Homo sapiens: one gene and its partners. The protein of the gene in region 5 purifies or fractionates together with the protein of the main gene of each other region. This does not show direct contact. Each region holds a gene or a part of one and is shown on either strand. Other genes may lie near its edges.

Region 1 (4,426 bases), on a different chromosome or scaffold from region 5:
GACAAAGTGAGACTCGGTCTCTTAAAAAAAAAAAAAAGCCGGGTGTGGTGGCTCATGTCTGCAATCCCATCACTTTGGGAGGCCAAGGTGGGTCAATCATCTGAGGTCCAGAATTCAAGATCAGCCTGGCCAACATGGTGACACCCCATCTCTACTAAATATACAAAAATTATTGGCCGGGCGCAGTGGCTCACGCCTATAATCCCAGCACTTTGGGAGGCCGAGGCGGGTGGATCACGAGGTCAGGAGATCGAGACCATCCTGGCTAACGTGGTGAAACCCCGTCTCTACTAAAAATGCAAAAAATTAGCCGGGCAAGGTGGCGGGCGCCTGTAGTCCCAGCTACTCGGGAGGCTGAGGCAGGAGAATGGCGTGAACCCGGGAGGCGGAGCTTGCAGTGAGCCGAGATTGTGCCACTGCAGTCCAGCCTGGGTGGCAAAGCGAGACTCCATCTCAAAACAAAAACAAAAACAAAAATTATGCAGGCATGGTGGCGAGCGCCTGTAATCCTAGCTACTCGGAAGGCTGAAGCAGAAGAATCGCTTGAACACGGGAGATGGAGGTTGCAATGAGATTGCTCCATTGCACTCCAGCTTGAGCGACGAGAGCAAGGCGCCATCTCAAAAAAAGAAAAAAAAAAAAAGGAGGTATCCAAAATAAAACTAATACCAAGTCAGGACACAGATGGGAGAAGTTCCTTCTGGTCTCATGACTAAATTTCAAGATAAAAGGCCTCTTGGGTGGGCAGCAACTTTGGCTGAAGAGTGCCTCATCTGGATTTCTAGAAACAGCAACACATGATCAAAATCATCCTAAAAGTGGAAGAAAATTTCTCACAAGGGCCGAGGCATCAAGAATCTGGTTCACTTAGATGTGCAGGTTGTAATGTAGAGAAAATTCATAATTTCTGTCCTGAAATATTCTCCCCTGTGTTTCCTATGTTTCTAACTGTAGTAATAAACTTCCTGGCAAAATTCTGTGGATGGAATTCCTTTACCTCATTAACAGAGTAACAGTAAATCCAAGTTTGAGCAGGATAGACCTGATTTAAGTCTGTTATTTCAATACAATTCTCTCTCTCAAAGAGCATCCTGTTTTGTAGAATTATACAATTTATATAGTATAAATTATACAATCACTAATAGATAACTAATAGATTTAGAGGTACCCACTGTGAACTTTAAACAACTTCTGGTCCTATTTCTTTACTTCTTAAGTTGCAAATTTGCTTAAGAAAATAGCCTGAGGTCAACCATGGTGGCTCACCCCTGTAATCCCAGCACTTTGGGAGGCCGAAGCGGGCGCATCAACTGAGGTCAGGAGCTCGAGACCAGCCTGGCCAACGTGGTAAAACCCCATCTCTAGTAAAAATTAAAAAAAAATAATTAGCCGGGCAACCATGGTTGCGCGCGCCTGTAGTCCCAGCTACTCAGGAGACTGAGGCAGGAGAATTGCTCGAACCTGGGAGGTGGGGGGTTGCAGTGAGCCAAGATCGCGCCATTGCACTCCTGCCTGGGTGACAGAGCAAGACTCTGTCTCAAAAAAAAAAAAAAAAATGGCAAGAAAATAGAAAGCCCGGCCAGGCACGGTGGTTCACACCTGTATCCCAGCACTTTGGGAGGTGGAGGTGGGAGGATCACCTGAGGTCAGGAAGTCGAGACCAGCCTGACCAACATAGAGAAACCCTGCCTGTACTAAAAATATAAAAATTAGCCAGGCATGGTGCCGCTTGCCTGTTATCCCAGCTACTTGGCTGGCTGAGGCAGGAGAATCGGGGGAACCCAGGAGGTGGAGGTTGCGGTGAGCAGAGATCACACCATTGCACTCCGGCCTGGGCAACAAGAATGAAACTCCATCTCAAAAAAAAAAAAAAAAAGGCCGGGCGCAGTGGCTCACGCTTGTAATCCTAGCACTTTGGGAGGCCGAGGCCGGCGGATCACGAGGTCAGCAGATCGAGACCATCCTGGCTAAGATGGTGAAATCCCGTCTCTACTAAAATAATACAAAAAATCAGCCGGGCATGGTGGCAGGCGCCTGTAGTCCCAGCTACTCAGGAGGTTGAGGCAGGAGAACAGTGTGAACCCGGGAGGCGGAGCTTGCAGTGAGCAGAGATTGCACCACTGCACTCCAGCCTGGGCGACAGAGCGAGACTCTGTCTCAATATAACAAAAAAAAAAAAAAAAAAAAAGAAGAAAGAAAGAAAATAGACAATAGAAAGCCGCCAGGCAGGGTGGCTTACACCTGTAGTCCCAGCACTTTGTGGGGGCTGAGGCAGGATAGCTTGACCCCAAGAGCTCAAGACCAGCCTGGACAACAAAGGGGGCCCCTGTCTCTACAAAAAAAAATTAAAAATAACTAGCCGGGCATGGCTAATTCCATGGAATGACATGCGTGCCTGTCATCCCAACTACTTGGGATGCCAAGGCAGGGGAATTGCTTGAGTCCAGGAGGTCAAGGCTGCAGTGAGCTATGATCTCACCACTGCAATAGAGCAAGACTGACAATCTATCTACCTATTTAAATAAACTAATGTAAAATGTATTTATTTAAATGAATTAAATAATATTAAATAAATATATAAATGGAAGCCAAGGCAGCCAGGTTATAAGTGGCACTCTGGTATTATGAACCAGAGGAAATGAGTCTATCCATGTTATTCATTTATAATGCCCAGAAATCTTGCCAGAAGTCAACTAGCCAGTTAGTAACAATACCTGCACTAGAACCCAAGTCTCTCAAAACAGTATGTTTCTACACCACAATCTCTTTTATCTAAGTTACCTAAGTTATTTAACTGCAAATAGACTGTGGTCCTGTTTCTTTACTCCTGAAGTTGTAAATTTGCTTAAGAAAATAGAAAGCCTGATTATGTCTGTAATCCCTGCACTTTGGGAAGCAGGAGGATCGCCTGAGGCCAGCAGTTCAAGACCAGCCTGGGAAACACAGAGAGACTCCATCTCTTGAAAAAAGAAAGAAAAGAAAAGAAAAGAAAAGAAAAGAAAAGAAAAGAAAAGAAAGGAAAGAGAGAGAGAGAGAGAAAGAAAGAAAGAAAGAAAGAAAGAAAGAAAGAAAGAAAGAAAGAAAGAAAGAAAGAAAGAAATTAATTGTGGGAGAACAGTGCAGAGTCAGTGTTGGGAAGAGACCATGGTTACTACACTATGCCAGGTCTGAAAGATGGTCTTCCTGCCAGTGCAGAATGGATTCCATCCAAAGACAGAAAGAGTTGCCTACACAAGACAACAGCAAAACTGAAATTTCCATGAACCATACCATACAACTAGTATCACAGTGTTCTTAATCTCCAGTGAAGACTGGAGAATGAAGGCACCAATAGCTTAACTGTTAAATATTTTTCACAGGTCATTTGCAATTAAAGTTCCCAAGGCTTACCTTGACAGTTTTTAAAGTTCTATTATCATTATTATTATTATTAATATTATTATTTTAAACGTGGTCTTGCTATATTGCCCAGGCTAGAATGCAGTGGCTATTCACAGGCACTATGACAGGACACTACAGCCTCAAACTCCTGGGCAAAACTGATTTTTCCTGCCTCAGCCTCCCAGGGAGCTAAAACTACAGGCACACACTACCATGTATGGCTTCGAAGTTTTAAAATCTATGATACTGGTTTTATGATCAACAAAGAGTTCCTACTTGGTAATTCACTTAATTGTCTGTAAGTCTAGAAGTAGAGAGGTGAAACAGCAAATAAGATGATTCACTAGGGTTTTCTTTCTTTGCTAAATTTTAGAGTGCTTGCCACTGGGCTTTAAAAAAGAAAAAAAAGAAAAACTTTATGAGGTCTTCACTTAACCATGTTCTCTTTAGTTAGTAATAGGAGTAAACAAACAGCTCTTTATAGCGAGGAAGGAATTATGCCAATATTAAATCCAGAGCAAACTTTTTTTCTGCAAGTGTCAAAATTTATCAACAATTAATGAGGAGTATTTCTGTGCAAAGGCAAATGAATGAATTAACTCAACACATATCTCCCTCTTTGGAGAGTTCCTCTGAAGAAATGTTAACATAACATAATGGGTGCTTGTAACAATCACCGTACTTTTTTTTTTTTTTTTTTTGAGACTGAGTCTTGCTCTGTCACCCAGGCTGGAATACAGTGGCTCAGTCTTGGCTCACTGCAACCTCCGTCTCCCGGGTTCAAGCGATTCTCCTGCCTCAACCTCCTGAGTAGCTGGTATTACAGGCACGCACCACCATATCCGGCTAATTTTTGTATTTTTAGTAGAGACGGGGTTTCGCCATGTTGGCCAGGCTGATCTCGAACTCCTGACCTCAGGTGATCCACCCGCCTCGGCCTCCCAAAGTGCTGGGATTACAGGCGTGTGCCACCGCGCACAGCCAATCGCCTTACATTTATACCACCTCTTCATCGCATTTGATCCTCACAAGCCAGTAAACACGC
Region 2 (4,426 bases), on a different chromosome or scaffold from region 5:
TCAGAATCAGCTTCAACACGGGCTACAGGCCCTTTACTCTTCAGTCTCTTGAAGAAAAAAAGTCATGTTCTAAGAAATACAAAGCTCTCAGGATCTGGCCCCTAAAGTCCCCACAGGCTACTTTACCTCCTATAAACACATTGTGAACTCTACCCTATAGCCCTGTCAAGGCTCAATTCTGCCATTGCCTATGCAACCCCCTCACTCAGTGTGCTGTAGAGCACTAATTTCAAGACTTGCCAGAATTTCTTTTTGTTTTTTGAGATGGAGTCTCGCTGTTTCGCCCAGGCCAGACAGTGGCGCGATCTCGGCTCACTGCAAGCTCCGCCCCCTGGGTTCACACCATTCTCCTGCCTCAGCCTCCCGAGTAGCTGGGACTATAGGCACCCACCACCGCACCCGGCTAATTTTTTATTTTGTATTTTTAGTAGAGACGGGGTTTCACCATATTGGCCAGGATGGTCTCAATCTCCTGACCTCGTGATCCGCCTGCCTCGGCCTCCCAAAGTGCTGGGATTACAGGCGTGAGCCACCGCGCCCGGCAAGACTTGCCAGAGTTTCTATGATCACTAACGAAAGAATGACTTTGATATAGTGTGGATATTTGTCCCTACCCAAATCTCATGTTGAAATGTAATCTCCTGCTGGTGGCTCACGCCTGTAATCCCAACACTTTGGGAGGCCGAGATGGGCGAAATCACTTGAGCTCAGGAGTTACAGACCAGCCTGGCCAATATGGCGAAATCCCATCTCTACTAAAAATACAAGAATTACCCGGGTGTGGTGGCACACGCCTGTAGTCCCAGCTACTCGGGAGGCTGAGGCAGGAGAATTGCTTGAACCCGGGAGGCAGAGGTTGCAGTGAGCCAAGCTCGTGCCACTGCACTCCAGCCTGGGCAACAACAGAGTGAGACTCCGTCTCAAAAAAAAAAAAAAAGGAAATGTAATCTCTGCTGTTGAAGGGTCACAGAATGGATCCCTCATGGCTTGCTACTATCCTTGTGATAGTGAGTAAATTCTCATGAAATCTTTTTTTTTTTTTTGAGATGGATTCTTGCCCTGTCGCCCAGGCTGGAGTGCAGTGGCACAATCTTGACTCACTACAACCTGCACCTCCTGGGTTCAAGCAATTCTCGTGCCTTAGCCTCCCAAGTAGCTGGGAATACAGGTGCACACCACCACGCCTAGCTAATTTTCTGTATTTTTAGTAGAGACGGGTCTCATCATGTTGGCCAGGCTGGTCTCAAATGCCTGACCTCAAGTGATCCGCCCACTTTGGCCTCCCAAAGTGCTGGGATTACAGGTGTGAGCCACTGCGCCCAGCCTCTCATGAGATCCTGTTGTTTATTTTATTTATTTATTTATTTATTTTTGAGATGGCATCTCACTCTTGTTGCCCAGGCTGGAGTGCAATGGCACGATCTCAGCTCACTGCAACCCGTCTCCCAGGTTCAAGCGATTCTCCTGCCTCAGCCTCCCAAGTAGCTGGGATTACAGGTGCCCACCACCACACATGGCCTTTTTTTTTTTTTTTTTTGAGACTGAGTCTTGCTCTGTTGCCCAGGCTGGAGTGCAGTGGTGTAATCTCGGCTCACTGCAACCTCTGCCTCCCGGGTTAAAGCTATTCTCCTGCCTCAGCCTCCCAAGTAGCTGGGACTATAGGCGCAGACTGCCACGCCTGGATAATTTTTTGTATTTTAGTAGAGATGGGGTTTCACTGTGTTGTCCAGGCTGGTCTGGAACTCCTGAGCTCAGGCAATCCGTCCACCTTGGCCTCCCAAAGTGCTGGGATTACAGGCGTGAGCCATCATGCCCAGCCAATCTTGTTTAAATTGTGTGGCACCTCCCCAACTCTCTCTCTCTGGATCCTGATTTTTGCCACGTGACACGCCTGCTCCCGCTTCACCTTCTGCCCCTGAGTGAAAGCTCCCTGAGTCCTCCCCAGAAGCCAAACAGATGCCAGCACCATGTTTCCTATACACCCTGCAGAAATGTGAGCCAATTAAACCTCTTTTCTTATAAATTACCCAGTCTCAGGTATTTTTTTATACCAATGCAAGAACAGCCTAATACAGACTCAATCCAACTTCCACCAGTGTTTACTGAGGCCTACTATGTGCGAAATGCTGGCCAGGTGCTATGCATCGTAAAAGCACACAACAGGCCCTGGCTACAGGGAGCTTCCAATCTAGTGACAAAATGATTAATTCAGAATAGACTAACCATGAGAACGAACAGGTATGGTACCGAGGAAGATTGGAGAAAGATTGCATTTGGTCAACAGAATTAGGAAAGGTTCATGAAGGAGATGGTATAAAATACTAGCCTAGAAAAATAGGATTTTAGAGGCCAGCCACGGTGGCTCACACCTGTAATCCCAGCACTTTGGGAGGCCGAGGTGGGTGGATCACTTGAGGTCAACAGTTTGAGACCAGCCTGGCCAACATGGTGAAACCCCGTCTCAACTAAAAAAAAAAAAAAGAATTAGCCGAGCTTGGCAGCTGGTTCCTGTAATCCCAGCTACTACGGAGGCTGAGGCAGGAGAATTGCTTCAACCCAGGAGGAGGAGATTGCACTGAGCCGAGATCGTGCCACTGCACTCCAGCCTGGGCGACAGAAGTGAGGCTCCATCTCAGAAAAAAAAAAAAGGATTTTAATAAGCAGGGAGTACGCAGAAGGGGGCACTGGGAGGAAGCATGGCAAAGGCCATGGCAAGGGTTGGCACAGATTCTAAGCACCATGCAAAAGGAAGGCTATAGGAAAGGCCTTTGGAAAACCACCCAAAGAAATGTGCAAGAACTACATACTGGGGAGAGACTTTCACAGCCCTCAGAGCTGCCCATCCCAATAAGGAAGGGCATGAGGTCACAAGCACAGTTGCAGTCTTACCTTTTCTGAATGAGTCCAGGCTGAACATTTCTGGCCAGGAGGGAAAGCTGGAATCCTGAGAACAAGGAGGGCCAAGAGGCAATGGTTAATATTCCTGGTCCAGCAACCCACAAAGAAGACTTCAGTAACATGGAGAGCACTGTTCAGAAAATGAAAAAAATGAAACTCTTCACTAATGAGCCCCAACTGCTGCTCCCCAGTCTTGAGGACTGGAAGGCCAGCTCCACTCTAGAGTAATTGTCTTTGCTTCTTTCTAATTGAGCACTTTCTTCCCTGTCCTAAAACTCCCCATATCCTGTTAAACAGAGGGAGATGCATTTCATCATGAGAGACATGTAGTTCTATCTAGTTCATCATAATACTTACAGGTTTCCTTCCCAGTTCATCATAATACTTGCAGGTTTCCTTCCTAGTTATCATAATACTTGCAGGTTTCCTTGGGACTTCCAGGAAGAAACGAAATTCTACATGGACCCCTTCTGTCATGTGGCATCAGGAAACAGGACTGATGACTGCCTTATGGGCAAACTGCCTTACTGGGCTTTCATAAAACCTAGTCAAGACCCTAAAAATGAGATTTGACTGACAGGATCAAAGAATAACTGTACAGTGATTCAGAATAAAAAGCTTTTCATAGCAGTCTCTATGAAATAACAAATATTAAGTTAAAGCACAACTATTAGCCAAAAGTTTTGGTGCATTTTGCTTATTAGTATATTTAACTGAGGACTATACTTAGAGATGACAAGAAAAAAAAGCAACACATCTGGTTTAACAATTTTGTTTTAAAAAATACTCAAACTCAGATTTATAGATGTTTTTATAATCCAGTACTCCTTGATTAGTGCAGTAACCTTAAATGGACTTTGTTTAAAAACATCTACACAGTGTTTAGCCAATCAGAATCATGTCCAACATTGATTGGAGTCTACTGGGGCCAACACTCCGGCTCCTGACTCCTGTTCCCTCTCATTCTCAAATTGTGGGGAGGTGGGGAGTGGAGGGCTGACCTGGGGCGGAATCTTTCAGGTCCATAGCAGGTCTGCCCTGATGGCCTCCACTCCCCAAGGGATGCTGGAAATTTCAGCCCATAGGATATGGTATATCACAGAGAAAACTTCAATACAATATCAACAATGATAACATTTACTTTAAGAAGTTACATTCCGGCCAGGCGCGGTGGCTCACGCCTGTAATCCCAGCACTTTGGGAGGCCGAGGTGGGCGGATCACGAGGTCAGGAGATCGAGACCATCCTTGCTAACACGGTGAAACCCCGTCTCTACTAAAAAAATACAAAAAAATGAGCCAGGCATGGTTGTGCGGGCCTGTAGTCCCAGCTACTCAGGAGGCTGAGGCAGGAGAATGGCGTGAACCCAGGAGGCAGAGCTTGCAGTGAGCCAAGATTGTGCCACTGCACTCCAGCCTGGGCGACAGAGTGAGACTCCGTCTCAAAAAAAAAAAAAAAAAAAAAAAAAGAAGTTACATTCCATAGACACCTTCTATCCAAATGAAAATAAAAAGTGTGTAATTTGACA
Region 3 (4,426 bases), on a different chromosome or scaffold from region 5:
AGGCTTAAATCCTTTCTAGAACATTCCCACTAAATTGTGGTCTGTGTCAAAAGCCAAGTACAAAACCCAAACTTACCAGTTTCTAAATAACTTCTTTTCCCATGTACCTGCATTGTGCAAGAGGCTTTATTTACATTACTGCTAATCCCTAACACAAATCACATAAAACAGGAGTCATCATGCCTATTTCAGTAATGAGGAAAAGAGGCTGAAGAGGGTCAAGTAAATTAGCCTAAGTAAATCAGACTAAGGCAACTGCAGATCTCAACCACGGTGGGACTGCACCTAGCTTAAGCCCCCTGCTGACAGCTGCTCACATTTGGAAATGTACAGAGGCATTTTGTTTGTCAGTATGACTGAGGTGTTACTGGCATTTAGAATCCAAAGGCCAGGAATGCAAACCATCTTGGAAGCTGCCAAGAGTGTAGCACAAATAATTACCCTACCTCAAATAACAGTAGTTCCCCATTTAGAAATAATGAATAGAGGATGTAGGTCTGTACAGATAAAGTTTACATGCTTCTCACTATACCACGTTTACTAAAATGCCTACCATGTGCCAGACACTATGCTTTATAAACATAATACATTTAATGTGATCTTTGTGGGAACTCTAAAGATAGGTATTATTTCCCACATTTAAAAAACGAGGAAATTGAGTGGCTAAGAAACGTGACTAAAATCACAAAACTAGAAAATAATGGAATCTGTATTTGATATCACAGCTGCCCTGACTCAAAGCCACTACTAGGTTTCTACAGTTTAGACAGCTGATGAAATTCTATTTTAGAATAAGTCAAAAAAGTATATCCCTTTAACTTTCACCATTCAGCACTACTCTTCCACACAGTAGCCCCTCCAATGGTCTTTAGAAAGACGCCATGTTCCTAGAATCTACTTTCCCACAGGCTAAATCCTGTTTTTTCAACTTTCCCCCCATGTGTCACCATTAGGAGTTGTGATTTTTATTCCTGAACCCATGCTAAGTCTCTAGGATAATCACCATTTTTTTTTTTTTGACAGAGTCTTGCCCTGTCACCCAGGCTGGAGTGCAGTGGCACCATCTCTGCTCATGGCAACCTTTGCCTCCCGGGTTCAAGTAATTCTAGTGCATCAGCCTCCCAAGTAGGTGGGATTACAGGCATGCACCAACACGCCCAACTAATTTTTGTATTTTTAGTAGAGATGGGATTTTGCTGTGTTGGCTAGGCTGGTCTCAAACTCCTGACCTCAAGCAATCTGCTGGCCTAGGCCTCCCAAAGTGCTGGGACTACAGGTGTGAGCCACCGCATCCGGCCAGAAAATGTAAACTTTTTAAAGGCAATAGATGGTATAAGTGAAATTTGTGTGACTATATAAAACACCCTGGATAAAACAGGGATAGAACATTTATTGAATTGATGAATGCCTGCTTCTTAGCAGAGTTACTAGTGGCCTCAAAGTGATGACAGTTGTTTTTTAACTGCCAAAAATAAAAAGAGGAAAACAGACCTTGCCACTTTGTGGAGGCAGTTTAAAAAAAGAAAAAGAGGCAGCAACTACCTTAAAAATAATTTTTTTCTGGAGTAGTTAAGTATTCAAGAGATTTTAGATATTTTGGTACATTAATCCAGTTAAGCCAAATTATAATATGGCCAACAAAACACATTACAAAGCTTGTTATAGTAGTTTCTGGAAAGCTACTAGTACAAGTGGATAAAGTAAGTTATATTGATAACAATTAAAGTCATAAAAGTTAGATTTTTTAAAAACAGCCTTTTAAACCACTAATAGAGTGTTCACTGATATTAGAAATAAAATGTTATTCTGGCAGCACAGAAAGTCTTGTCCCTATTTTGTAAATTCTTTATAATTTTATTTTAATGAAATTAAAAATCATAAAGATGACTCATTCAATTGGTCATCTTTAAGGTTACTGAACTCATAGCCATCATTCAATAAATAAATAAATAAAACAGCAACAATAATAACAAACCTAGATATCCTTTATCAAATCTCTTATCTCAACAGGAAGAAATACCTTGGGTTCAGGTGACACATTCATCTCAGGTCTGAGACTCACAGAAAAAGTTTTAGACTGGAACACACACATAACATGGGCCCAAGTCTCTACCTCAAAAACTTAATCCTGTGATACCACCTCTGGCAATGTAAAATCTAGCCACAACAAACCATATGCAGATCCCCAACTAGGTCAGCCCTTTCCTTCCTCTCTTTCCAAATGGTAGTCCCTCTGCACTGAGCGCTTTTCTCTGCCTTATTCCCCTCCTTCACCCTCATCCATCTAGATCCAGCTTCAGCATCTCTTTCTATGGGAAGTCTTTCCTCCCAGGGCAGACTTTGTACCAGTCACAGGGTCCCCACTATATCCTGCATTTCTCTATTTAATTGTACCATCCACACTATATTTTGTCAGTTTACATATCCATTTACTCCACCTATGAATTTCCTGGTTGTCTCTTGTTTTAGCTCTGCATCTTTTACTAAGAGTTACAACAATCTCTTGGCTGTAGCATGTGCCTGATAAATGTTTGGTGAATACAAAGGAAAAATCAGTTTATAGACTCTTGGAAAGAGATACAATTTTCTGATAAAAAAATTATTTTCTGAAAGTTATAGGCAATATTTCCTTATTCTTTTAAATATATTTTTAAGGGGGGTGAGGGAGAGGACAGGAAAACCTCCTTAAAAAAAAAAAGGATACTTGGGGTTTTACGATCTTCATTAATAACAATCAGGTCTGTGAAATCTCTTGCGATGCACTGTGGAATAATTTTTTTCAGAGCCAGTCCTCTTCTGTAATAAACATGTGAGTTTGGTATAACTGTGGAGAGCTGTTCACAGAGTCGTACTGTTCTCTGCAAAACAAAATAACAAAAATTTTGAATAGTTTTCAAAAAAGAATAAAAATCTTATGTGGTACATATTCATAAGGAAAGAAATAATAATTATTATGATTAATAGAAAGCAACATTGAGGAAAGCATGAAACTCGAACAGTGTGTCCTCTTTTATCAAAGGCTGATCATCCTAAAGCAGTGGTTCTCAATTAGGGGCGATTCTGCTCCATCAGAGGACACATTTGGCAATGTCTGGAGACATTTTTGATGGTTATGACTGATGGTAGTGGTAGTGGTGTGTGGTTGCTACTGGCACCTAAAGCATAGAGGCCAGGGAAGCTGCTAAACATCCTGTAATGAACAGGATAGCTCACCATAACAAAGAATTCTCCAGCTAAAATGTTAACAATGTTGAGGTTGAGAAATCCTATCTTGAAGAATCATGTTTAGTAAACCTACATCATATTACCAGAGCTACGTTTTATTTACTTAGTCACAGGCATTCTTTAAGGCAATTAACTAATGGTTTAACTCTTCTGAACAGAGTACTTTAAATAGAAGTAATAAGAAAATTAAGAATTCAAGAACTAAATTAATCAATGTGTTTACCCCATGAGGTCTATCTGATGTTGTGATGAGAATCTTGGGAGAAGTCTGTTTGTTGAAGTAAGAAGCAAATTCATCTGTAGCTTCATCATAAGCGACCTGAGAACAGAGAAGAGGAATAATTTTACATCAAAGAAATACTCTACTGGGCCAGAATTCTAAAAGTAGCATCAGCAGGACTGTTGGACACTGAGTATCTAGCTGATAGGGGCTTTAAAGACAGACTAGGAAGGACTGACATTAATGGACACGTGAAGAGAATGGATGAGTGGATTTCTCCTGTGTAAAATACAAGTACAAAACTGAATAAAATTGTCAGAAATCACTTCAGGGCAGAAACTGAGATGTGTTTACTCTTGAACTACTTTCATTTCCCTCATCAACTTGGTTAGTAAAAACAATAACCACAAAAAAAACAAAACAAACAAACAAAAAAAGAACCAAAAAAAACTAATGAAATTACGAGAAGACAAATCTTCCATTGAGAGACACTCAGATTTAAACATTAATGAAAGTAGTACCTTTTAAAATTTGTGGAATATACCAAAAGTGGTAGTCTGAAAGAGTTTTATGGCTATACCTGCTCATATTAGAAAAAATATATATTGAGCAAATCAATAAATACAGAATAAACTCAAAGGAAGCAGAAGAAAATAATAAAGATAAAAGGAGATATAAATGAATTAGAAAACAAAGATTCAACAGGATCAAAGAAGAAAGTACTCAGAAAAGACTAAGAGAATAGATATCTTGGTAAAAACTGATTTAAAAAAGAGAAAAAGCCAAAATAAAATAATATTAGGAACGAAAAGTGGACATTACTGTAGTCTCACTCATGAACACAGATATAATTAATTCTAAGCAAAGAATTAATAAATCCAATTTGGTTATGATGTTTAATGCAGTAAGAGAAAAGCCACATAATCACCTCAATATTTGCAAAGAAAACATCTAATAACATTCTACATTCATTCATGACAA
Region 4 (4,426 bases), on a different chromosome or scaffold from region 5:
TGCCTGGCCTGTTTTACTTTGTCAAATGAACAGTGCCCACATCTATTCTTTTTGCCATCTGTTGAATAGGAATCACCAACAGGACCCATTGATTTGAATTTTTCTGAAGTATTGGGCATGGTTTGCCCCAACCTACACACCTGCAGTTTTGGCAGACATTCTCATTGACCTTATCAGGGTCAAACCTTTCTCTGTGGTCTCAGAAGAGTGAATGTGGGCGACCTATAGGGCATTGAATGGAAGTTTTGACTTTACTAACAGTTGAGTAACTTTCTCAATTGGGCCAATAGAGAGACCTCTTTAGAAGACTCATTATTCTTTGTGAACTTTTCCATGACAATGACATGAAAAGATAAATTGAATGCCACATCTGTTGCAGTCAGTTTTGGAAGGAGCTTTAATCTTGTTTTTTCTTGCATTATTTAATTAAGACGATTGTTCTTGTGATTTTTCTGTAGATTTTGAGGAATTTAAATATTCTTGACTGCTATGTGCAATATTTTTTGTGTATTGTGAAATACAGCTATTTTGGAGTATCTTAAAGAATCCCCATTTTAGAATTAGGCTGTCATTTAAAAATAAACAGTTTGCCAAAATGAGAGCAATATCCTTTACCTTGCATGTTTAGCTGCAGTGATTTGTGTTGATACGTTTGTTAAAGGAAGTTGGTCATTTTCTTAATGTATGTCTTTCACATTAATTTTATCCCTTCACTGATGGTGAGTTTGCATTAATTTTGAAAAGAAACAGCTAGATTGATCGTTTACAAGAATAGTCATTTTATTTCCCATTTACTTCTCCAAAATAATCTAGTGATACTGGCTTGGAAGTCTTTTAACCCAAATTTCATAGTTTAATAAATTAAAGGAGCACATAAGATGTTTTGAAAATTGAGTATAAATACTTTCTGTGTATAATCTGTAGAAATGTGCTTACTTGAAGGAAGATGACCTAAATTTCTCAAATTTAAGGAATCAGTAGGAAACTGTCAAAAACAACTGTAAAATGCATTGAAAGGGAATGATTGATAATCTGAAAGTTAAATTTTCCCTGGGAAATAAGTTGTCATGGGAATTTGTACATAACTGTACAGAGTACATGTGTACTTAACATAATTCCAGAATTACCAGTTTTTATAACCATGATAAATGTAATAATAGAATACCTGTGACTATAAATACTTTCAAAACAGAAAGTTGGTTTTTATGTGGGGTCAGTACCCTGGTTTTTATTTTATTTTATTTTATTTTATTTTACTTATTTTTTTGAGACAGGATCTTGCTCTGTCACCCAGGCTGGAGTGCAATGGTGTGATCTCAGCTCACTGCTGCCTCTGCCTCCTGAGTTCAAGCGATTCTCGTGCCTTAACCTCCCAAGTAGCTGGTACTATAGGCGTGCATCACCACACCCAGCTAGTTGTAGAGATGGTGGTTTTACCATGTTGGTCAGGGTGATCTCAAACTCCTGACCTCAAGTGATCCACCCACCTCAGCCTCTCAAAGTGCTGGGATTACAGGAGTGAGCCACTGCGCCCAGCCCCTCCTGCTTTTTTAATAGAGTGCTTATTATGAGAGGTTATTAAGTAATAATTACTTAAGTAATTTCCTAATAAGGAATAAAATTTGAAGAATTGACTTTGAAAGAAAGGAACAAGTTAGGTAGGAAGTATTTGGTTGTTTAACCTTAGAACAAAAAATCCTTATTGCATTTTTGAAAGGATCAGATTGAATTGCCTCCTAGACATATGCTTACAAGAAGACATTGCTTTGGTAGTCACCAAGGTACAGAGCCAGTCTTCTCCACCTCCATTCCACATTTTGATGCCTGCTAGGTTGAGAATGACTGTTGTAATGAGTAACGATTAATGAAGGGAATGGATTCTATCCCTCATAAATGTTACAGAGTAAAGATAGTTGAGAAACACTGTTCTAAGCTCCATGCTGACTATGTCAGGGATGCCTGCAGCTGCAAAGAACTGAAAACTTGCTGTCCAATGACTTTAAGAAATACGAGTTTATTTTTCTAACATAACGAAGTGTGGAGATTGGCAGACTGGGGCTGTGCAGCACCAATCTCCGCAAGGATCTAGGCTCGTCCTTTCTTCCCGTTCTGTTTTTATTCTTTTGGTTGCACCTCCAGGCATTATGTCCAAGTTAAATTTTCCCTGGGAAATAAGCTGTCATGGGAATTTGTACATAACTGTACAGAGTACATGTGTACTTAACATAATTCCAGAATTACCAGTTTTTATAACCATGATAAAAGCCCTCTCCAGGGGCTTTTGCCTCTTTGGCCAAAGTATCAGTGGCCACTCTTAGCTTCAAGAAGGCTGAAAGATGGAATAATCAAGGTCTTCTCTTACTCATGGGGGATATGTTCCAAGACCCTCAGTAGACACCGGAGACTATGGGTACTACCAAACCGTGTATGTACTGTTTGGTATATATTTTTTTCTATACATACATAGCTATGATAAAACTTAATTTATAAATGAGGCACAGTAGAGATTAATAATAACTAATAATAAAATAGAACAGTTATAACAATGTACTGTAATAAAAGTTATGTGAATATGGTCTTTCTCTTTCAAAGTATCTTATTGTGCTGTTCTGCAGGTAACTGAAACCACAGAAAGCCAAACCATAGATAAGATGGGGTACTGTATTTTACCTTTACATCTTTTACAATAGAGAAAGGAAAGGGAGAAGTGGTTGGGAGTGGGTGGTGAGTGAACCAGCCTAATCTATCTGCGTTACCAACCTGATGCCTTCTCTTATTCTGACTTTAGATAGAGTTCAACACAGATTATTTGATTTCTGCTTTTTTACTGCCATTTTATCCTTTTGCTTCCCAAATTTATACTCAGGGTATCTCTATGGAAGTGGGCACATCTTAGACATTGATTACATTTTGATCTTGTATGATTTTGCTTGTGGGGAATCTCCTTTGTTTTTTTATTTTTTGTGGGGTTTTTTTTGTTTTTTGTTTTATTTTGTTTTGTTTTTTTGAGACAGAGGCTCGCTCTGTTACCTAGGCTGGAGTGCAGTGGCATGATCTTGGTTCATTGCCACCTCCATCTCCAGGGTTCAAACGATTCTCGTGCCTCAGCCTCCCAAGTAGCTGGGACTACAGGTGTGTGCCACCACATCCGGCTGATTTTTTATTTTTAGTAGAGATGGAGTTTCGCCATATTAACAAGGCTGGTCTCAAACTCCTGACCTCAAGCAGTCCTCCTGCCTTGGCCTCCCAAAGTGCTGGGATTATAGGCGTGAACCACTGCACGCAGCCAGTTGTGGGGAATCTCTTTAATATTCTGGAGCTGGCTGTCTGGCACTCCCAATGTGCTGACTAGAAACATGTCAAAATCTAGGTAGTCTCAAAATGTAGATTTTGAGTAACTCTTTAAAAAAAAAAATTATAAAGATGGAGTTTTACTGTCAACCTGGCTGGAGTGCTCTGACATGATGATAGCTCACTGGAGCCTTGAACTCCTGAGCTCAGGAGATCCTCCCACCTCACCCTCTCAAGTAGCTGATTTGGGTGACTCTCTTAAGTAGATCTCTGAATTTGAAACTATTGCTATTTTTAAGGAGTGGAGAAATCAGTGGTGTCTCCATGTATGATGGAGGACAGTTAACATCAGAGAATTAGAATGAACAGCATAATGGAAACATGAATGACTATGTTGAATGAAGGGGAAGATGGTGGAGAGACTGGCCTGGCTGGAGTGAAAGGTAGTTTTGAGAGAGTACCTGTTACTGGGCAACAGGGCCTCTGGTGGTGTAAAGCCCCCAGGCACCCTTTATCTCAGGTCATCTTATTCACCCTTTCTTTTGTCCTTCCTGTCTGCTTGCCTTTTTAACCACAGTACTGCTTAGTCCTCCAGTAGAGCCGGGACTTAGTGTCCAAATCCTACCTTGCAGCCTTTGGAAGAAAATCCTGTATTTAATTTTTTAGGAGAGTTTTTATCATTTAGAAGAATCACAAAAAGACAAGAACATTGCAGATGGTACAGAAAGTCTCATTTTTATGTGTATACAAAAATATATGTAAATATGCTACTTTTAATAAAAATAAAGTATATGTTGTTTTGTAACCCTTTTTTTCACTTAATATATCATGAACATCTTTCCATGTCATTGAATACAGGTATCCCTTGCTATCTGAATCTACTTGGTTTCTGAGTCAGGGAGCTTGAGTTCAGGTAGAAAGGGATACCTGTACTTCTCTGTGGCTTCTAATAGCTGCACAATATTGCCTGTATGAATGCATTGTGGTTTAGTTAACAGACCTTTGAATATTGAGGCTGATAGTAACTTTTCTCTATTTATAAATAAACTTTGTATGTGCTAATACTTACATTTTTGTGCAAACTTATCATTATATAGAATTGTTGGATTGAAAGTATGTTATTTCCTCCACCCCA
Region 5 (4,881 bases):
AAAAATAGAAAAATAAGTGTAATATGAATGGAAGGCAGGCAATGAGGAGAACAGGAAACTGCAAGTGAAATGTAGAGAATCTCCAATTTAGAAATTACAGGCTAATAAATGTAACGGCAATATTGAACAAACCTTTTTTTTTTTTAATTTTCAAGCAGCCAAGACATAAAGAAAACCATATTGGTTTCACAGTTCTCATATAATGGCTGGAGGCATATGACTTAATCCAAGAGACAACCTATTCCTTACCTTTGAAACACCTGTGAATATTATCAAAAGGACACACACAATAATTTACAAGAGATAACAAGTTTAATAGAAGGTGTTCTTCGAAGAAGTTTTTCAACATCATTCTGTGGAGTACTGCCTTTTATATTGACAGTTGATAAAACCCGAAGGTAAAATATTAAATTATTTATAGGTAAAGGCAATTCAGCGCAGTTATTCATCTTTCTTGTTAATTTAACATGATCCAAGTATATGTACTAAGGAATTTAGAAAAATGAATGGTAGGAGTGGTACTGAAAGTATCCTCACATACCAAATCTCTTAGGAAAGGTTTTTAAGATGCAATTCCTACTTTAAATAGCCACTGCCTAAAGTGTTAATTTTCTCAGTGACTAATTGAGAAAACACCAATATGCTTACTTCTTTGGGCAAGAAGTTAATACGACCACTCCCAACATTTAGTCAAAAGTACTATCAAATCTGTAGCATGTTCACAACATATTAAAAAATGAAACAAGAATACAAATAAAGAAAATAAAATACATTTCACATTTTTTGAAAAAACATTCATTTTTGCATAATAATTTTAAGTGAAATTATGCAGATGTTAATTGCATCACATATGTTTTCCCCTGCTGTACTGACTTCTCAAAAACAAGTTAGAACTTTTCACTGTGATAGATTCAGAAGAACCATGTTGACATTTTCATGAAAAAAAATAGAGTATTACTGAAATAAGAAGGGAAATATACTCAATCAATTGCCTCACCTTGACTGTTCAGGAAAAAAAAGTGGAGGAATACACTTTATTCTACAGATTTCTAAGGATATTACATCAAAAAAAGTACAAAATGACAATTTTACAGTTAGAAATTATGTTCTATTCTAAAATGAATAAAGTTTTCTAGTTTTGCATTTTTTTTTCAAAAGAATTCACTTCAAAAAAAAACTTGTGAATTAGCATAAAATAACCCCTTATCACAAAGGAGCCCAAACTAAGGAGGCACCAACTAAGGCTGAAACAAACTGAGCATTCTTATTCTCAGCACCTGCGCCTGGCCTGGCCCAGGGTGACATGCAGGGGCTTGGAGCCCACTATGCGGCCATTCATCTCATCCACTGCTTTGGTAGCCTCTTCAAAAGAGGAAAAGCAGACCACACCAAATCCTTTGCCTTGCCCCACTTCCATCATCACTTTGGCCCGACTAATTGACCCAAAGGAAGAAAATTCCTCCTTCAGTTTTTCATCATTGATTGTCTCATCCAAGTTCTTAATATAGATAGGCACCCCTGGGGGCCGACTTTTTTCTTTTAACCTCAGCCGTTCAAATCTCCGCCTCAACTCAGCCAGGCGTTCAATTTTCTTCTGTGCTCGCCCTACATAGAGGACTTTTCCATCGATGGACTTTCCATGCAAGTCTAGCACAGCCTTTTGGGCAGCCTCGTGTGTCTCATATCTCACAAATCCAAAGCCTTTAGATTTCCCACTGGCATCTCTTATTACTTTAACACTCTCAGTTGGCCCATATTCACAGAAAAGTTCCTTCAGTTTTTCGTCATCTATGTCGTCTCCAATGTTTTTAACGAAAACATTGGTGAAAGTTGCTCTATCCCTGGTTCTGACCTCAGCCGCCCGCTCTTCTGGGAATTTGAATCTGCCAACATACACCTGGCGGTTGTTGAGCCGCACTCCATTCATGTGCCAGATGGCTCTATTGGCAGCGGCCAGGCTGTCAAAGTGAACATAGGCATAACCCTTAGAGCCGTTGTCATCGCATACGACTTTGCAGGACAGAATGTTCCCAAAAGCAGAAAATAAGTAAAACAGGGCCCTATTGTCTATGGATTTGTCCAGGTTTTTGATGAATATATTTCCCACTCCAGACTTTCTTAAGCGGTCATCTGGCTGAGACCACATAAGGCGGAATGGTTTTCCATTAATCAAATCAAAATTCATGGTGTTCAAGGCCCACTCTGCATCCGCGGGAAAGCGGAAGTTAACATACCCATAGCCCAGGGGGCTGCGGGTCACCGGATCACGGCAGATTCGGGTGAATCGCAGAGGGCCAGCAGGCCTGAACTTCTTATAGAGCATGTCCTCGGTGACATCTGGGTCCAAGTCACCCACGTACAGAGCGGCCTTGAGATACTTCTTTTTCTTGCCAGCAGGATTAGGCTCCCCGCTCCCCATCTCTCTGAGCACTGGGAGGAGGTTCTCTTTGAAGAGAAAAAAGGCTGCTTTCTCTAAGCTATGGGCCAAACAGCTGTTCACGAACAGAAAAAGCCAAGGCAGGCAAAAGGAAGCTAAAAGCAGACTCAGAATCACTGTCGAGGCTGAGAAAATGAAGTTCAGAAACAGCTGGTCAGCAGGCTCAGAACAAACACATCAGACAAAAAGGCGCCCCAAATACGAATCTATTCTCCCTGCGGGGACTTAAAATTGTCACCCGTTCAGATTTAAAATCAGTTTCAAAAGCCAGTACCAGAAACGTAATTTTCCTGTCCCCGTGAAATTGTGAGAAGCCACCAAGCAGCTGGCTGGTTCCCCACAACTAGCATTGCAGACAGAGGCCTCCCGACCCGCTTTCTGCATAAATATAGGCCTAGAGCTCCTGTTGGTTTAAAATGATATCAACAAGGGCAGGGACCGAGCGCGTATTCCTCCGCCGGCTGCCTGGCCAGTCTCGGGCTGGCTAGCCTTTCGCTAAGGCCTCTCCGCACTCAGCGTCTGCGAAAGGGTACACCAGACACTTGGTGCGATAAGACCGGCAGGCAGGCTGCAGGCAGCGGATAGGACACAGAGACAGACAGACAGACACACGCGCGGGGGATCGAAGACCGCCCAGATACCCAAGATGCCCACTGGGTACGGACCGAGTGAGGCGCGGTGATTTCAGCAGCCTGAGGCTCGAGGCAGGTCCGGAGAGACTGACTGGCAAACGCGCAGTGAGTGGGTCAGCTCTGACGCGAGGCGGGTCTGGCCAGATGCGGGGCGGAGTCAGCGAAGAAGGGCAGATGCGCGGCGGGCGGTCCCAGCGCAGACCGATGGGCTGGGGTTTCTCTCCGCAGGACAGTCCAACGGAGGGACCAAGAGCCAGTAGCAGTGATAGGGAGGGGGGACAGGCGGGGCGCGAGAAACCCGGAACCGTGCTAAGTAACTTCCCGCTTCCTCTGTACCAAGATTTAAAAAAAAAGAGAGAGAGAGAAGGGGGGAGAGAGAGAGAGAGAGAGAGAGAGAGAGAGAAGGGGAGAGAATGAGAGAGAGAGAGAGAAGGAGAGAAAGAAAAATCTAAGATGGCTTTTAGATGTTTCTTATATTTTAAATGTTATTTATTATTTAAAACACTATATTTAAGCCGAACATCTAAAAATCACATAAGAAGATGACGACCTGGGCAAAAATAATAAGTTTTAAAAAACTAATTATCAAAATCATTTAAGCTTAGGGAAAAGGATAGGTTGCATACTTTCCTGAGTGCATTGGAAAGTCAAAGTTTACAAATGTCCTGGCCTCCCAATCCAGTGCTAAAGGATCACAGGGTCAAGTAGAACACAGGACCATGTTGCCTTTGGCCTTTAGCCTTACTTCATTAATCTCCAACATAATGGTAATATTTTCCTCAGGTGGTAGGCAAAGAGATCTTTTCTCTGATCCCATAATACTAAGGTTTTAATGATTGGAGAGCCATATAATGGCTTTTGATGGTGTTTAGTGCCACAAAACGTTGAAACTGTTGAGCTGCCGCGAGAATTACAGTTACAAAATCTCAGTTAAAGAGATAAAAGCCACAGAATCAATACAAAATATGTAATTAATATTTACAGATGAAATAAACATGTTAAGATATATGCACTTTACACAATTATGAATTTCATCATGAGTTGTCAACTTGAAACCCTTGAAGGAAACAGTGCCATCAGACTGGACTCAACTCAGCAGTTTCTCAACAATATCTCTCTTCAGAGTATTTGAGAAACCCTTTTGGAGAGAAATTTTGACCGTGTTTTCAGAAATTCACTGATATCTAGCATGCGCAAACAACACTTCAAGAGGCTCCTTCCACAATTCCTACCCCTCCAGAAAAATCCAAACAAAACATCTATCACTACTCTTAGGCTGGAAAAGATCCTGGGAAAAAAAGATTGCAAGAGAAGGACATTACCTTAGTGGGTGTTTTCCTAATAAGTCCTCAGAATAAGAGGCTAAATTAACGTATTCATTCACTTTATACATTTTATAGTGTCTATTAGACTGTAGAGTTGACATTAAACCTCATTATTTACTCAAAAACTTAGTAATTTTCTTTACTATTTTTTTTTTTTGCTTGCTTTCTAGTGTTCTTGGTTAACTAAGACATGGAGATTTTGAGAAAAGGCAAATATGAACAATGATATTATAGACTAATAAATGGGTTTTACAGTGTGACCAGAGTGACCAACATGTGGAAACACTTGTGAACATCTGCCTAGTTTATTGCATTTTGAATATATTTTTATAAACATATTTTCTTTTATGCGTAATTAACAATGGGTTAGAATTCTAGTCTGTTTTGGACTTTTCTCATTTTTAAAACTGCCTTATTGAAAATAGTAAAATAACAACATAAATCCAATTTCCACAATCTCATCATTGATTCAAATCAATATTTTCAT
Region 6 (4,056 bases), on a different chromosome or scaffold from region 5:
GGAACATATGTCAAACGCTTAGCACATTGCCCAGCACGTAAAGCGCTTAGCCAGTGTTTGCAGCTGTATGATAATCCCTTCTAAGAAGCACAGTCCCACTCTACAAATGAGGAAACAACGAGAAGTGACATTCTAACCCAAAGTCACCAACATTCACTCCAATGGATACTGAGGCTTCTCCTGTGCCACTCTACAACACGTAGTGATCAAAAATGAGGTAGACCTCCCCTACACCAACGCAGACACCCAACCTGCTCCCACAGCTGTAGGACTGGGAATGGCAGAAAACGTAAGAAATCCAGAGAAGTTCCCCAAAGGACCAGAGACCACAGAACCTTGGTTGCCCCACGGCACTCAGAAGTGTGAGCCATCTCATGGGCATGACCGTATTGAGCATAGAGAGTGCTGAATTTACCAAAATCTAGACCATTTGGATTTTTCTTCACTGATTTATATAAAGGGATGTGGGAAGCTTTTTTGAAAGAGCAGCATTTACCTTGAAGGGCTTTCCTAAAAGAGATGCCTTTAAAAAAGCCATAGGATTAGTGGTTAAGTCTCTAACATGTGAACAGCATGTGCTGCCCAGCTACTGAGGTGAAGAGTCTAAGCTAGATTTATTTCTGAAGAACAAAGACCAAAAGAATGCCTTTATAGCTCTATATCTAGTCAGTCACCTTGGGCTGAACTACAGAAAGAACTGGACGACTAACACCTAAAACGCTGAAAACAAAGACACATACACTTCCAGGTGTGGATTTTTATTTTCACAAAAAGACAACAATGTCTTCCCCACATACAAGTATTTACAAAACCCAACTGATTCACCCATCTAGAACCTGGGTTTTTTTCCACTTCTCAACATAGTTGGGAACATGGAAACATTAATACCCACACAATTCCCAGAGATGGAATTTATCCATCAAACAAACAGTGCAGATTACCTAAAAGTGCACTTACCTGCACAACTCGGTCTAAGAACCTTGTGAAACAAACCTCATGGCCAAGGTTTCATGAATCTATTTGGTTTCATACCATGCAAACCTGAACAAGTGTGCTGCTACACTAAACTGAAAATCGGTTCTCATTTTACAATTAAAAAGGTTCTCAACACTTTAGCAACTATACAGAATATGAAGGTTTATTTCAAAAAAGATTACATTTTTTTAAACCAGGATACACAGATGCACTTAATGTAACAGTACCTTCTGCAAAAATAGGTTACATAATACTCAGAAATGCAATGAACAATCTTATTCTCTAAAAATTAGACAGCTAAGACTTCTTAAGTGTAGACAGCCTTCAAAATGGAGGCTGAAAATGCTTGGTAAAAAGAAGTAACTCTAGAGCCAGACACCACAGAGCTAAGGCTGCAAATTAAACCACTACCACACAGCTGCAAACTACTCTTTATATTCACACAGCGTTAAACAAAACGACTTCAATTCCATCTTTTCAAATGTGCCTCGGTGCTGCAAGAAAAAAAGTTGAATGATACACAAAACTATTAAAAGTTACAACAGAACTATTTAAACATCTTCTCCAAAATTGAGAAAAGCAATCATGTTAAATTTTTAAAAAGAAAAGTCTGACAGAACTCTCAAGCAAGTCAGAGGTCCTCTTCATAAGTAGTCAAGTAAAGTTTACAGGAGATTTCAATAAATTATCTTAAAACCTTGGCAGAGAGCTCATTTTCAGAATCGTCGCGGAGGTCCACCCTTAAATGGCTTAAATCCGGAGCCACTTCCTCTTGGCATGGAATTGCCACTGATTTGTACAATTCTATTAATTGGGGATGCGTTACTGAAAAAGGTTTAAAAGAAAAAAACATCAGAGAACAAAGAACAAATCATCACTGCAAATACCAGGCACTGTTCTTGGTACTTTATCCAAAATAAATCATTTACTCTTTTCAACAGTCCCGTGAGGTCTGAACCATTGCTAACCCCACTTTACTGAAGAAACAGATCTGGAGGTTGAGGAACTCTTCCAAGGTCACAGAGCTAATAAAATGGTGAAGCAGAGATTTGAACTTGGGCAATCTCACTTTGAAGCCCCATTACTTCAGAAGCCAGTTGTGGATCTGCACGTGGACTACAGCAGCAGATCTCTTAAGTGTGGACCCCAAACCAGCAGCAGCAGCACCAGCTGGGTGCCTGTTAGAAATGCAAATTCTCACCCCCATCTCAGACCACAGAGAAAGAAACTGAGGGTGGGACTCCCAGCAACCTGTGCTTTTCTTTGTTTGTTCTTTTAAATATATATATTTTTAGACAGGGCCTCACTCACTTCACCGAGGCTGGAGTGCAGTGGCACATTCATGGCTCACTGCAGCAGCCTTGACTTCCTGGGCTCAGGTGATTCTCCCACTTCAGCCAGCCACCAGAGTAGCTAGGACTACAGGCAAGTGCCGCCATGCTCAGCTAATTTTTTTTATTTTTCTTAGAGACAGGGTTGCGCCATGTTGGCCAGGCTGGTCTTGAACTCCTGGGCTCAAAAGATCTGCCAGCCTTGGCCTCCCAAAGTACTGAAATTACAGGCAGGAGCCACCACGCCCGGCCAACCTGTGTTTTAACAAGCCCTCCAGGTGATTCTGTTGTTTGCTAAAGCTTGTGAACTAAATTATAGAAGTCATTTAAGAATATTTCTGGAATCTTTATGTGTAATGCAACAGAGCAGATGTTAGTAACACAAAAAAGCAGACCCCCTCCCCCGACAAAAAACCTTTAACAGGCCGGGCGCAGTGGCTCACGCCTGTAATCCCAGCACTTTGGGAGGCCGAGGCGGGCGGATCAAGGAGAATTGCCTGAACCCGGGAGGCAGAGGTTGCAGTGAGCTGAGATCATGCCAATGCACCCCAGCCTGGGTGTCACAGCGAGACTCCATCTCAAAAAAGAAAAAACTTTAACAAACCAGGAGATAAAAATCTACAGTGAAGGCCGGGTGTGGTGGTTCACACCTATAATACCAGCACTTCGGGAGGCTGAAGCTGGAGGATCACCTGAGGAACAGGAGTTTGAGACCAGCCTGGCCAACAAAGTGAAACCTCCATCTCTACTAAAAATACAAAAAAATCAGCTGAACATGGTGGCACACGCTGTTGTCCCAGTTACTTGGGAGGCCAAGGAAGGAGAATCACGTGAACCCAGGAGGCGGAGGATGCAGTGAGCTGAGATAGTGCCACTGCACTCCAGCTTGGGGGACAGATACTTCGTCTTGGAAAAAAAAAAAAATCTACAGTGAAATGGTTCAGGCAGAATAAAACTAGATTATAAGGGCCAGGCTGAGGAATCTGGGCTCAATCCTGTGACCTGGAGCAGCTGCTTGTTGTGGTTTTAGAGCAATAAATGGTATAATAAAATGGGAGTTTCAACAGTTCAATTTACAAATGGGGTAATGGAACACAATAATTGGGAAGATCAGATAGAAGCTAAAATGAGGAATAAGGGATAGCTATGATAAACTTTCTTTTTGTAGAGACAGGGTTTTACCATGTTGCCCAGGCTGGTCTCAAACTCCTCAGTTCAAGTGATCTACCTACCTTGGCCTCCCAAAGTACTGGGATTACAGGCATGAGCCACTGTGCCCAGCCTGAGAAACATTTAAAAAAAAATAGAGCCACACGGCCGGGCGCAGTGGCTCATGCCTGTAATCCTAGCACTTTAGAAGGCTGAGGTGGGCAGATCACAAGGTCAGGAGTTCAAGACCAGCCTGGCCAACATGGTGAAACCCCATTTGCTAAAAATACAAAAATTAGCTGGGCGTGGTGGTGCACGCCTGTATTCCCAGCTATTCACTTGAACCCAGGAGGCAGAGGTTGCAGCGAGCCGAGACTGCACCACTACACTCCAGCCTGGACAGAGCAAGACTCTGTCTCAAAAAAAAAAAACCACACTTAGAAATTTATACTAGGAATGAAGAAAGGTAAGGACAAGCCCCGTATTTCCAGTCAGGGTGAATGAAATGGATGGTGGCACTATCAAATTGAAAGAAACTGGAGGCAACAAAAGGGACACAAAGGTTTGAAAAAGGAGAGGAATGAGTTTGACTGTGACCTTG
Region 7 (4,426 bases), on a different chromosome or scaffold from region 5:
TGCAAAGAAGGAGCCAGTTTTGAGAAGAGCAAGGAAATAGCAAGTACACACACCTTAAGGTGTGAATGTAAAGAAGGCCAGGGTGGGCCGGGTGCGGTGGCTTGTGGCTCGCAGTGGGATTACACCTGTAATCCCAGCACTTTGGGAGGCTGAGGTGGACGGATCACCTGAGGTCGGGAGTTCGAGACCAGCCTGGCCAATATGGAGAAACCCTGTCTCTACTAAAAATACAAAATTAGCCGGACGTGGTGGTGCATGCCTGTAATCCCAGCTACTCAGGAGGCTGAGGCAGGAGAATCACTTGAACCCAGGAGGCAGAGGTTGCAGTGAGCTGAGATCACGCCATTGTACTTCAGCCTGGGCAACAAGAGCGAACTCCATCTCAAAAAAAAAAAAAAAAAAAAAAAAAGGCCAGGGTGGCCTTGAAGGCAAAGATTACCTTTCTTTGCACTCTAGAAGAGCCTAAACAGTATCTGGCAAATATTAGACATTAATGTTTGTTCCCATGGCCCAAGATTGCTGAGAACCTTCCTTTCTCACACTACATCTTAATGATCTGGCATATTTGTTCATTAATTCACTTATGTATCCATTTGACAAATAGTCATCACACAGTGTGTGCCTAGTACAATACCAGGTGCTGGGAGTACATGGGGAATAAAACAGACATGTTCTCACAATCTAACACACAGTCTGTGGAAGGAGACTTTAAGAGACTTAAAGAACTCACTGTAGTTTAATGTGAGAAATGCCAGATTGGGGTATAAGGGAAGTGCTTTGAGAAAAGAGCATGAAATTATTACTTTGTTGAAGGAAAGAATTTCCAAGAAGAATTTTCTCATTGAGAAAGTATCATTTGAGTTGGACTTTGAAATGCAGAGAGGAAAGTGGGGGAATTGGTTTTCTAGGTAGAGGGGACATCTTGGGCTTAGGTGTTTTCTTCTTCTTTCTTTTTAATTTAATTTCTGAGCATCTGGCATACCTAGCCAGAAAAGGTACTTTTAAAATTATTTATTGAATGAATGAGATCAAGAGGTTAAAATTTAGTTTTAAGGAGATTGGAGATCTGAACTTTGTGACCTCACTTTTTTATACCATTATATTTTTATTTCCTTTTTTGTCTTTCAGTAAGGTTTACTTTAAACAGTTTATACTGTCATAGCTGTACTAAGTAGAGAATGGAAAGTTTTTATTTTACATGAGACTAGAGAGTTTGAGGGAGGGCAATGTGTATATACTGTGAGATCGTGATATTTGAGACATTACACGTTAGACCCCAAGGGAAAGGAGAAACTCAGAGAAGAGACATGATAGATGCTTAATAAATGTTTGCTAATCTTTAATCAAGTACAGATGTACAGTAAGCAGTTTAGATCAGAGATAGGATATACATTTTTATTTGTAATTTCCTGAGTCCATCATAACAGGTTAGACTCAATTCTCTTAATGGTATGATGTAAGAAGAAGATGACTGAATTTATGATGCCCATAGGGAGCAGAATGAGGAAATGAGGACACCACAGAATAACTGGGGGTGAGGTGAAGATTTTCTATTGAGTTGGAGAGTGATTGGTAATTTGGGAAGGTGTTATTTATTTATTTATTTTAGAGACGGAGTCTTGCTCTGTCGCCCAGGCTGGAGTGCAGTGGCTTGGTGTTGGCTCACTGCAATCTCCACCTCCCAGGTTCAAGCAATTCTCCTGCCTCAGCCTCCCAAGTAGCTGGAATTATAGGTGCACACCACCAAGCCTGGCTAATTTTTGTGTTTTTGGTAGAGATGGGGTTTCACGATGTTGGCCAGGCTGGTCTTGAACTCCTGACCTCAGGTGATCCGCCTGCCTCGGCCTCCCAAAGTTCTGAGATTACAGGCATGAGCCACCATGCCTGGCCGGAAGGTGTCATTTAAGTAGGAAGTTACTGTAATATTTTTAGAGGCTATTCCTCAGGGCCAGTGTCCTAACTGCCTGGGAGGCTCTTTAAGTGTGTTGTATGTGTTCATCACTGAGCTATAAAAGCAAAGAAAACAAGTCCCATCTCTTAAGTATTCCAATTAAATGAGAAGGAAAGATGGATAAGCAATCAAATATTTATAATATAGAAAGGTAAGATTATAAAGAGTTATATACAAAATGAAGAGAAGGAGAAAGCAATTGTCACCATCAGGTAGTGTTGAGGACAGCCTCACAGAAGTAACATTTCAGATTTTGCTTCATTTGTCCATCCATTCATCCATCAGACTTTATTAGTGCCTCTGATATGCCAGACACTGCAGAGTAGTCACCTTTTTATAAATATATTGAGTCTTTGTGCTTGCCAGTTTTCTATTTTTAAAGAGATTATAATTGGGTTTTAAAACAAAACCCTATGAATAAGACTATGCTGTTTCTTTAAATATGTAGAGAGAGTTATATATTTGTTTAAATTTCACAATTTACAGGTCAAGCCTAATCTGCTGAAATATGCCAGCTCTTATATTCTCTGTAATAAGCAGCCGATAGACTACAATTTTTTTTTTTTTTAGGTTTTGTTATGGGTGTGAACTAATCATTTAAAGGCTCATTATTTTAGGAAAGCATTCATGAAGATTTTGAGTATCATTTGTAATACTTGCTCAACTATTAACTAACTGTAATCTTGGGCAGATCACTTATTTTTTCTAGACCAGGGTTTCCTTATTGCCATGCTGAAGATGTTTGGCTCTGTGGTTATTAACTGAGCTGTATTGTTTCTCTAGGGTGGTTGGAGAGGATTTTGTTTGTTTGTTTATATCACAATGGCATGTTGTAGTGCAAAGCACTACTGGCATTTAGTGGTTTGGGGTCAAGGATGCCAACTGGCCTGCATGCCTGTGTAGTGCCTTCAGATATACTCTGTCCCCCAGTGCCGAGTAGGGCCTTGTTAAGAAACCGCTTATCACTAAATGATCTGTCTTCCAGCTCTACAATGGCAAGAATCTGGGACTTACTGTTTATACTGTTTACTTTGCAGTTAGCATGTAAATACTGGGCTCCCCACATCAAGAAGAAATCACCTTTTGATATAAAGGTAAGTATTTTTGGTTTCAACATAATTCTTGAGAAGTTACACTCCTTTTAAAGGGTTATTTCAACAAAAGCTTTCCATAATTTTTTTAAAATTAAAAACAACCTAACGATCTACAAAAAATACAATTTTTTGCTTATCAAACTTAGCAATGATTTATGTTAGGAAATTTGGAAGACATAGAAACTACACATAAGAAAATAATCACTACACAGAGATAACCTCTCTTACCATTTTGTTGTATTTTCTTTAAGCCTTAACAAAAATGTGTATGTGGCTGGGCACGGTGTCTCACGCCTGTAATCCCAGCACTTTGGGAGGCCAAGGCCAGTGGATCACAAGGTCAGGAGATCGAGACCATCTGACCAACACGGTGAAACCCCATCTCTACTAAAAATACAAAAAATTAGCCGGGCATGGTGGTGGGCGCCTGTAGTCCCAGCTACTCGGGAGGCTGAGGCAGGAGAATGGCGTGAACCTGGGAGGCGGAGCGTGCAGTGAGTCGAGATCGCACCACTGCACTCCAGCCTGGATGACAGAGCGAGACTCCATCTCAAAAAAAAGAAAAAAAAAAAGTGTACGTGTATAATTTACTTAACTGTTTTTCTGTTTATAGATTCTTAGGTTATTTTTAATTTATCATTATTATAAATGATCATGTAATAAATATCTTTGTAAATATACAGAAATTTTTGTACAAGTTTTTGATAGTTCATTTAGGATTAAATCTGTTGGGTTATCTTGTTTTTAGAGTGGTGAATGAGGTAAAGGTCTATAATAAAGATGGAAGGAGCAGCAGTTGTATAGTGTAATAACTTAAGTCCAGTAATATTCAATAAGGGAATTGAACTTATTCAATTGAATAAGTCCAACTGAAGCAATTTAGAACAAATAATATGACAAATTCCCAAATATAGGGTTAATTCTCATTGGATTAGGTTCTTAAAGAGAGGTCTAAGGCCAGGTGTGGTGGCTCATGCGTATAATCCTAGTGCTTTGGGAGATCAAAGAGGGAAGATCACCTGAAGCCAGGAGTTTGAGACTAGACTGGACAGTAGTGAGATCTCGCCTTTACAAAAAAATTAAAAAAATTGGCTTGTGCAGTGGCTCACACATGTAGTATCAATTGCTCTGGAAGCTGAAGCGGGAGGATGACTGACTGAGCCCAGGAGCTTGAGGCTGCAGTGAGCTGTAATCAGGCCACTGCACTCCAGCCTGGGCAACAGAATGAGACCCTGTCCCTTAAAGAGAGTGAGGTCTTTAAATGAAATAGATGTTGACACTGCATACCATTCAACAAGTAATGAAGACTCTTAAGCTTTGCCATTATAAATTTAATGGTGATGCTTTAGGCACTGTTGGTAAAACTGAACTTTTTACCCAA

The links.
Region 1: the proteins of PABPC5 (region 5) and LARP1B purify together in Homo sapiens (affinity purification with mass spectrometry; one large-scale study listed by BioGRID and IntAct). This does not show direct contact.
Region 2: the proteins of PABPC5 (region 5) and DHX30 purify together in Homo sapiens (affinity purification with mass spectrometry; one large-scale study listed by BioGRID and IntAct). This does not show direct contact.
Region 3: the proteins of PABPC5 (region 5) and RPF1 purify together in Homo sapiens (co-immunoprecipitation; one large-scale study listed by IntAct). This does not show direct contact.
Region 4: the proteins of PABPC5 (region 5) and IREB2 purify together in Homo sapiens (affinity purification with mass spectrometry; one large-scale study listed by BioGRID and IntAct). This does not show direct contact.
Region 6: the proteins of PABPC5 (region 5) and SLTM purify together in Homo sapiens (affinity purification with mass spectrometry; one large-scale study listed by BioGRID and IntAct). This does not show direct contact.
Region 7: the proteins of PABPC5 (region 5) and AQR purify together in Homo sapiens (affinity purification with mass spectrometry; one large-scale study listed by BioGRID and IntAct). This does not show direct contact.

Annotation. Positions count from the first base shown.
Region 1 is NC_000004.12:128,063,928-128,068,353, reverse strand, and holds part of LARP1B (la-related protein 1B), read right to left. Parts: intron 1-4,426.
Region 2 is NC_000003.12:47,809,175-47,813,600, reverse strand, and holds part of DHX30 (ATP-dependent RNA helicase DHX30), read right to left. Parts: intron 2,945-4,426; 5' UTR 2,918-2,944; coding exon 2,890-2,917; intron 1-2,889.
Region 3 is NC_000001.11:84,488,751-84,493,176, reverse strand, and holds part of RPF1 (ribosome production factor 1), read right to left. Parts: intron 3,545-4,426; coding exon 3,449-3,544; intron 2,859-3,448; coding exon 2,705-2,858; intron 1-2,704.
Region 4 is NC_000015.10:78,440,658-78,445,083, forward strand, and holds part of IREB2 (iron-responsive element-binding protein 2), read left to right. Parts: intron 1-4,426. UniProt on the Homo sapiens protein: RNA-binding protein that binds to iron-responsive elements (IRES), which are stem-loop structures found in the 5'-UTR of ferritin, and delta aminolevulinic acid synthase mRNAs, and in the 3'-UTR of transferrin receptor mRNA.
Region 5 is NC_000023.11:91,433,116-91,437,996, reverse strand, and holds the start of PABPC5 (polyadenylate-binding protein 5), read right to left. Parts: upstream 3,159-4,881; 5' UTR 3,103-3,158; intron 3,095-3,102; exon of another isoform or gene 2,998-3,094; intron 2,563-2,997; 5' UTR 2,420-2,562; coding exon 1,271-2,419; 3' UTR 1-1,270. UniProt on the Homo sapiens protein: Binds the poly(A) tail of mRNA. May be involved in cytoplasmic regulatory processes of mRNA metabolism. Can probably bind to cytoplasmic RNA sequences other than poly(A) in vivo.
Region 6 is NC_000015.10:58,878,308-58,882,363, forward strand, and holds the end of SLTM (SAFB-like transcription modulator), read right to left. Parts: intron 1,801-4,056; coding exon 1,692-1,800; 3' UTR 743-1,691; downstream 1-742. UniProt on the Homo sapiens protein: When overexpressed, acts as a general inhibitor of transcription that eventually leads to apoptosis.
Region 7 is NC_000015.10:34,962,853-34,967,278, reverse strand, and holds part of AQR (RNA helicase aquarius), read left to right. Parts: intron 1-2,988; coding exon 2,989-3,045; intron 3,046-4,426.